Linked DNA regions of Homo sapiens. The protein of the gene in region 2 purifies or fractionates together with the protein of the main gene of each other region. This does not show direct contact. Each region holds a gene or a part of one and is shown on either strand. Other genes may lie near its edges.

The links.
Region 1: the proteins of BOD1L2 (region 2) and BPGM purify together in Homo sapiens (affinity purification with mass spectrometry; one large-scale study listed by BioGRID and IntAct). This does not show direct contact.

The regions. Positions count from the first base shown.
Region 1 is NC_000007.14:134,645,478-134,649,652, reverse strand, and holds the start of BPGM (bisphosphoglycerate mutase), read right to left. Parts: upstream 2,801-4,175; 5' UTR 2,716-2,800; intron 2,519-2,715; exon of another isoform or gene 2,394-2,518; intron 1-2,393. UniProt on the Homo sapiens protein: Plays a major role in regulating hemoglobin oxygen affinity by controlling the levels of its allosteric effector 2,3-bisphosphoglycerate (2,3-BPG). Also exhibits mutase (EC 5.4.2.11) activity.
Region 2 is NC_000018.10:57,145,751-57,149,886, reverse strand, and holds the start of BOD1L2 (biorientation of chromosomes in cell division protein 1-like 2), read right to left. Parts: upstream 2,801-4,136; 5' UTR 2,575-2,800; coding exon 2,056-2,574; 3' UTR 1-2,055. UniProt on the Homo sapiens protein: May play a role in proper chromosome biorientation through the detection or correction of syntelic attachments in mitotic spindles.

The sequences.
Region 1 (4,175 bases), on a different chromosome or scaffold from region 2:
TCATATTTGTGGCTAAGTTTCAGCAGAAGGGTTTTGTTATTAAGTAATACTTTTTGTCCTGCCACCCATATAAACATCTTTCATATCAGATTTCATTCCAAGGATGTTTCAAGAAACCATTCGGTTCAAACACGTTTGTGACCTCTGTTCTTCAGGCCCCAGACACACAAAGATGAAGGCCAGGTGAATTTAGGTGCATCAATCATTACTTAAAATGTGCCTCTTAATCTCAACCAACCACAGCAGGCAAAAGAGGAAGAAAGACTAAAAGCTCTACCCAAACACTAACAGTAGTTGCTTCTAAGTGACATTTTTCTGCCACATTATACTTCGGTATGCTCCAAATTTTCTACAATAATCTGGTTTGGTTTAAATAGGAACACAAAAGAGTATATCCTTGTAATGGGGACAAAAATAGGAAGATCAATAAGACCTAGTATTTGCTAGCACAACAGGGTGACTATAGTAAAAAAAAAAACAATTTAATTGTAAATTTTCAAATAACTAAAAGAGTACAATTGGATTGTTTGAAACATAAAGGATAAATGCTTTTGGTGACAGCTACCCTATGTACTCTGATGTGATTATGCATTGCATGCCTATGTCAAAATATCTCATGTAACCCATAAATATATACACCTACTAGGTACCCACAAAAATTAAAAATTAAAAAACAAGAATATATCCTTGAAGCTGGGAACTTTTACTTGCTAATAGATGGTACAGAATTTACTGCAATGAGATTCTGCTTGTATACTAATAATTTTTACTTTAAAACAGACTTTAAATACAGAGTTTATATCTCAGATATAATTTAATGCAACATCTGCTTTCTAAAGATGCAAAAATCGAGATGGTAGGATCGCTTGAGCCCAGGAGGCAGAGGTGGAGGTTGCAGTGAGCAGAGATTGCGCCACTGCCCTCCAGCCTGGGCAACAGAGCGAGACCCTGTCTCAAAAAAAAAATGCAAAAATTAAGAGTCACAGTTGAAATGATTTGTTTAAGATCACACAAATAGTAACAGTTTCAGGACTAAAGCCAATGTTCTTGATTTCTAACTCAGAGCTCCTTCCACTATGACACTGTTTGAATTATGCTTCTCTGAAGTCCACCACCAACTGGGGAGCATCTGCGGTGTATGAGGTGCTACTGGAATACAAAGATGGCTAAGAAAGAGCTATTCCCTGGACTCACGGGAGGCAGTTCAAAAAAAAAGAAGGCCGGGCGCGGTAGCTCACACCTGTAATCCCAGCACTTTGGGAGGCCGAGGCAGGCAGATCACCTGAGGTCAGGAATTCGAGACCAGCCTGGCCAACATGGTGAAATCCTGTCTCTACTAAAAACACAAAATTAGCTGGGCGTGGGGGCGCATGCCTGTAATCCCAGCTACTCGGGAGGCTGAGGCAGGAGAATCGATTGAATCCAGGAGGCGGAGGTTGCGGTGAGCCAATATCGCGCCATTGCACTCCAGCCTGGGCAACAGAAGCGAAACTCCGTCTGAAAACAAAACAAAAAAAAAACCAAAACAAAAGAAAGAAAGAAAGAAAAAAGACAAGGCCAGGCACGGTGGCTCACGCCTGTAATCCCAGCACTTTGGGAGGCCGAGGCAGGCAGATCACCTGAGGTCAGGAGTTCAAGACCACCCTGGCCAACATGGTGAAACCCCGTCTCTACTAAAAATACAAAAATCAGCCAGGCGTGGTGGCCTATGCTTGTAATCCCAGCTACTTGGGAGGCTGAGGCAGGAGAATCACTTGAACCCGGTAGGCGGAGGTTGCAGTGAACCGAGATCGAGCCACTGCAGTCGCTCCAGCCTGGGCGACAGAGCGAGACTCCGTTTCAAAAAAAATAAAAAATAAAAGACAAATTGACATGAGTTCTGCTTTCACTATTAAAAAACCTTTAGTACCTACAGGTGAAACTTAGCTTTTGATTTTTCCCCTTCTTGGAAAGAGTCTGCATTTAGTCAGCTAACATTCTAGTACCACTCACAAGCTAAAGATCTTCCGTAATTTGCAAGGGAGGCAGTAGGGGGATGAGAGTTATAAGTTAGCTAACAACCAACTATTCTTTAAAGCTTAACTGTGAACTTAACTGCAATTATGCATTTCATTGACCTTCTCTAGTGTAATACCAGCTCGTCCCTTAGAAAAGAGGAAAATACACTTACGTTTTTATTTCTAGTGGTTCTAAGAACTTGTGATTTGGCTCCAGATTCCTACATGAAAACACTGCATATATTCACCTCCTTCTCTTTTCACCGCATTCGAGTTTTTCTGTCTACTACACAAAATGATAGATAGGGCCAGGTCTGCCAGAACCCTAAATACAGCGGCATCGCCCTGCTTCCTTCCAGGGGATCTTACTATTGGAAGGGCTCTGCTACACAGTACCTCAGACATCCAGAAGAGAGTTTATCTTCCCTCCAACTTCTATATATTCTTGCCATAAGGACAGCACTACCAAAGCGGGCTCCTCCTCTCAGTTGACAGAACGGTGACTGCCTGCGAGGCTCATTCTGAGATAGGGACAAGGGAAAGGGACCGGGGCGATAAGTGAGGGTCCCAGCTTGAGGGCTGGAGTGGGCACCAGACTCCCACCAACGACTAAACCGGGGGAAGTAAAGAAACTGGCCTTCCCCGCACCCAAAAATAAAACATCACATCACTAAAAAATGTAAACGTTCGCAACATTTTCTAAAACAAAGCCACTCACCTGCAAAGGGGCCACCAGCAGCAGCAGCAGCAGCAGCAGCCGCTCCTCCGAGCCGCCAAAGAGCCAGCGCCTCCTAGGACTCATCACTGCCGCCGGCATCGACGCTCTTTTCTAGCCCCTGAACCAGACGTGGGCAGGTCCTAGGGCTCTGCCTATTGGAAAGTCGAACTGTCACTCATCCACGGTCCCGGCCTACTCCCGGAACAGGAGAGGTCTCTTCCGTTTACCAAATCCCAGGAGTAAGAAGTGGGGCTCTGATTGGTTTACTCTAGAGACGAGCACATACCTGAACCAGTAAGGAGTTGGCTTCGACGCCAGCGGGCAGGCTTGGGCCTAGGGAAGTAGAAAAACACACCCTAGAGCGTCGCTGGTGCAAAACCTCGGGTGCGGGGAGCATCTTAGCTGTTTGAGGTTCTAGAAAGCGTTTAACGTCTTAAAAGAAACACCTGCGGGTGAAGACAGGTGTCAGCGGACTCTTGGAAGAGAGGAGGTGATGTTTCTTTTACTTATGGGAAATTTAGGGATTGAAACCTGAAGACGAAGCCGAGGTATCCTCCCAGAAGAAGCTCCTTTCGCACAAATTACTCGTGGTTGAAAGTCTTAAGTCGTGATTAAAACAAATGCCTTTAAAGTGCCCAATTTATAGGCAGTAACGCAACCTTACTTTCTCTTACCGCTTTTATAGGGATTCCCCTAGGCAGTTTGCTGACAGTATTTTAGGTGGGGAAGAAAAGTGATTAATGGAATGCCCTAAAAGCTTATTGCACAGAGGAAGGGAGGCTAGAGTGGAATGAGAGAATGACAAATTTGGAGGCGACAATAACTGAACAAGAGAAATCTATGAAAACACCGGAAACCTGGCACGAGGCCTTAAAAGCTTCTAAGCAGGCTTGAACTACCACACGAGGTTTTGAAGCATATGTGTCAGAACTCTTGGGTGGGCGGGAAAGATAAGGAATGTTATGGGAGATTCCCTTCTTAGAAGCTATCCTAAGTAGTGTTTCGTGTCCTCCTGTGAGTTTTTCCTGTTTCATCCTCCTAACAAATGCATTAGGTTTGTGACACGCAAGCAAGTCCTCAGAATAAATTATACATACAGTTGAAAAGATAATCTTTCCACATTTGAAATTCTGTGACACACTCTTTATTGAACTCATTAAGACCTAATCGTAGCCAGTTCTGTATCTCATTTATCCATGTTAGAGCATGACAGTTCCTCCTGGGATATCAACAGAACTTTACTTCCGGGACGGCACTAATCCGAGGCTTGACAGGTCCCAGCAGGTGATAGGTCTCACCTAGTGATAGTTAGAATTTAACTTGCACAAGATTAACTAGAGTTCAGGCCAGAACAGCTGGAAGGGGCAGCTTCCAAATCTTATACATTTGCCCTCTTGCTTTTTTCTCAATATCAGTTGAGGACAAAGTAAGGAGAAAGCTTTTCTTCTACAGTGTAATAA
Region 2 (4,136 bases):
CCCAAACCAAAAATCACTTCCGCAACACATTTCTTAAAAGCAGAAATTAGGTTCCTTTTATGTTAGTGCAAAGATAGGTGCCAAGCTGGGGTCTCAGATGGAGTGATTTTAAATCTCAGAAAGAGCTTAGCTGTTTTTGTAAAAAGGAAAGTTGGCAAGTGATTAGTGCCGATGTGGCCCAGCTGCTCTTTTGTACTTCGAAAGAAACAATTAAAATGGCTGGGACATTAAACTTTAAAGAGCTGGGTTGTTCATATTCAGAAGCTAATTTTAAAAAGAGCCTGGTACCTGGGAAAGGAAGGGACATTTTCAGAAAGGACATGGTCTTCTACCTTCTGGACTCTAAATTTTGAAGAATCATTTAAAATAGCTCATAGGTAAACATTACAGATAAAATACCTCCAGGGATAAGAAAGCTCTTTCTTGCTTAGACATGTAGACACTAGATGCAAAATTAATTTTTGTTCACTTTTTAGATGATAAATACTGCCATCTGAGAAATTAAATGTTGGAAAAGACAAATCCAGAACTGGTTTCTTTCTACAAATTGCTGAGCTCCTGTGATGTGCTAGGTCCTGGGGTTAAGGAAAAGAAATGAACAAAGCAAATCCCTGCCCTGGAGGAAGCTCACATTTAAGTGGGGATGACAGATCTGTAAGCAAAGACAGTTCACTGTGGTGAGGTGGTGTGGCTAAAAGCATGGTTAAAAGGGTTAAAAGTGAGGGCTCTGTGCTCAATACAGGCTCAGCCCCAGCCCCACCACTTAGGCAGTGTCTGAGCTTTGGTTTCTACATTTATAAATGGGAATAAAAATGGGAATAAAGATACGATTTCTTCAATTAGATCATGAGGACTTACTACGGTAAGCGAAGTTAAGCGTTTAGTACACTGCCAGCTGTAGAGCAATAGAGCAAGTGCTTCGTCAGACCTAGCTACTATAGTAAGTGTGGTCATCCCTTATGAGATCTATGGGAGCACAGAGGAAGGAGTCTGTCACTCCTGCTTAGACGATGTGTGGCTCCTCAGGAGCTGAGTCTTAAAGGAGGGTAGGAGTGGTTGAGGGCATTCCCTTCACAGTGAGCAGAGGGAACACAGGGTGTCCAGGATAGTCATGGGCATGGTTGTCATATGAGAAATGACAGTGTACGGGGCAGCAGAGGTGACCAGGGGCCCCATTATCACGGGCCTCATAAACCATGCCAGGTGTCTGACCTTCTAGAAATATCAGAAAACTGACGGAGCTTAAAGAGGAAAAGGATGTAAATCTGCATTTCTTTTTTGTTGTTGCAGTTGAAAGATAAGCCATTTATTGACCATCCACTTTTCAAATAAAACACAAATGTGAGCATAACATAAACACACCCAAGACTCACTAGCCCCTGCAAGACAGGAAGCATTCTTGGACAGAGAGTCTGCAAATGAGTTTCCTTATACCTAATGTCTGAACTTCTCACTCATTCTAGGGTTTCATGCTTTGTTATCTCTTACAAAGGAAAGGAAACTGGCTAGAAGATTCATGTACAAGAAGGTCACAACTTCAAAGCTATCTGACACTAATGTTGTGTACAATCTAGTTTGCAACTCTGAGAGACAATATCAAATAAGTACTGTCAAATATTCCTCCCAGTTAACCTTTACTGTCATTGTTCTTTGAAATTGTCTTTGGGATTGGTTATGTTCTCTCGCTGTAGCTTTCGTTTATCTCAGAGCACAAACCCTAAAATCCATGTGCAGTCTCCATGTTCAAGTATAGATGTCTGTTTCAGGACAATCCTGGGTCGCGGTAGTGTTTCCCTCTCTGTAGTGTGTGTTTGGTGTCATGCCCTTGGAAAGGCTGGCCAAATGGCAGCGCAATGCAGGAGGGTGCCACGGTCAACTTTCTCTCTGGCGAACTTGCTTCCCTTTCAATCTGGTCACTGCTCATGGTCGAGGTGGAAATCTTGAGCTCAGTGATGAACTTGGCTTATCTTCAATCTGAAACTGCACTCTTATGTAACCGAATCCATTTCTTCACCAAAAATTAAATAGCGCTTTCAAAAGCTGTCAGGCATATTCTTAGGAAGTGTCCTGAGACGGAGCTGGAGGGTCCTGGCCTTCTGGCTCTGGAGGGAGTGCTGGCACAGCTGCTTCTTTCTGGGCCACCAGGAATTCATGAATTATTTGTTCTATTTGTGGCCTGAAGATGTGGTTTAGTTTTGGATCCACCACCTGAGAACTAATCCTGTCCACTCCAGCTTCTGACCTCCCTGACTGAACCACACTCTGCCTCAGACCATCGTGCAGTTGGTTGTCGTTTGCTGGAGGATTCCATTCCTGCTTGTCCAGATGTGTCGACACAAAATTATCCGCTTTCTGGCTCAGGTTTTGGTAAGCTGGCTTGGTGTCCACGTCAGCCTTGCAGTCCCGGCGGAAGCTGTCAAAAAGGCCCCTGCTCTTGAGCTGCCCCACGATGATAGCGATGAGCTGAGGGTCGCCAGGGGGCAACGAGGCCGGGTTGATGGGGCCGCCGCCCCCGCTGGCCCGGGTCGAGGCCGGGCCCGCACCGCCGCTGCCGCCGCCGCCACCGTCCGCCATGGCTGCGCACCGGGCCCACAAGGAAACCGATTATAGCTTCTTCTCCAGGACAGAAAGCCTAGAATGTGTAGAGGTGGCTAAGGGGGCGGTGAAGGAGGAGGGCCCCAAGGAGGCAGCGGCGGAGGTGACGGTGGTGGTGATGGCGGCGGGGCCGGTGGTTGGGGCGGCGGTGGGGGAGGCCAGCTCCAGACCGCGGAGGTTGTGGAAGACGCGGCAGCAACCGCCTGCTGGATTCCAAGCGCGCTCCAGATGGCGTCACCGTTGACCTTTGCATTGTGAGGCGGGAACCGTAATCTGCATTTCTTAAAAGATCTCTAAGAGGGAGGTGGGAAACAAATGCCAGTGGGCAAGGGCGAAACAGGGAGACAATTTCAGCAACCATTTCAGTGCCCTAAGAAGGAGATGGCGAGGAGTGAATGATCTTCGTGGCCTGGCAGGTGAAGAAGGTAACAGGGATACAAGAGATATTTAGGAGATAGACTCATCCCAGGGATTGGAGAACAACGGGGTGAGGGACGAGGGAAAGGAGAGGGTCAAGGATGACCCCCAGGCTTCTCACTTGGGCAGGTGCATGGAGGTGCCATTTACTAAATGGAGAACAGGTATAGAGGTGAGGATGGGAGACAGAGACATGATCGTGCATTCCATTTTTATTTACTAGTTTAAGATGGGTATGGGTTATTCAGATGCAGACATCTGCCTATGAAGTCCAAAGATACAAGGACTAGGGGCTGGGGAGAGACATCTAACTCACTGAAGGTAGAGACTATAGGTGGCAATTACAATGGAGAACTTAGAAGAGATAGAGGAACACCTGGAGAGCCCATGAGGGGGACTGAGAACAACACTAAAAAGATGGAGGGAAAACTACAAAAGCCTTGGATCATAGACCGCAAAAGGTACATTTCATGAAGGCCATGGGTGAAATGCCACACTATGTTCCACAAGGTGTCCATTGGCTTTGGTAGCCATTGATGAGCCTAGGGCAGATGTGTCAGTCAGAAGGAGGTCATTTCAACAAGAGAACTGTATTGCAACCAAGAGCCACAAAAGGCAACCACATCCAGCGCCATCCAATAGAGAAGTGCAGGTGCACAGAAAGAACCTTCTATCAATATTTCAAAAGAAAAGCAGATCCCTGATTTCACCCCAACACTCACTTCCCTGAATTAAAATGCCCCTGAGATGTAGACACCACATTGTTCTATAAGCCGTAACATAGCTTAAAGGTAGTATATTTCACAAAGAAAGTTTACACAACAGACTCTGTCAATAACCTCACCCCATAGCTTCTGACATACAAGTACAGATGCCTCAGATGGACGTATTCTGAATCTCATCCCACAGGAGACAGTGAACCTACCAAGACTTCACCACAGCAACCCCCTACCTATGCTCCTCACCATCCCCATGATCAGCTCGACAATTCAGTTCTGTATTTTTTTAAATTAATCAATATTTATTGAGGGACTAGTCGATGTGGCCCTGTGCTAAGCTTTATGGAGCTCTCCACGTGCCTGGCCCAGTCTAACACTCAATAAATGTTTGCTGTGGCTGTTGTT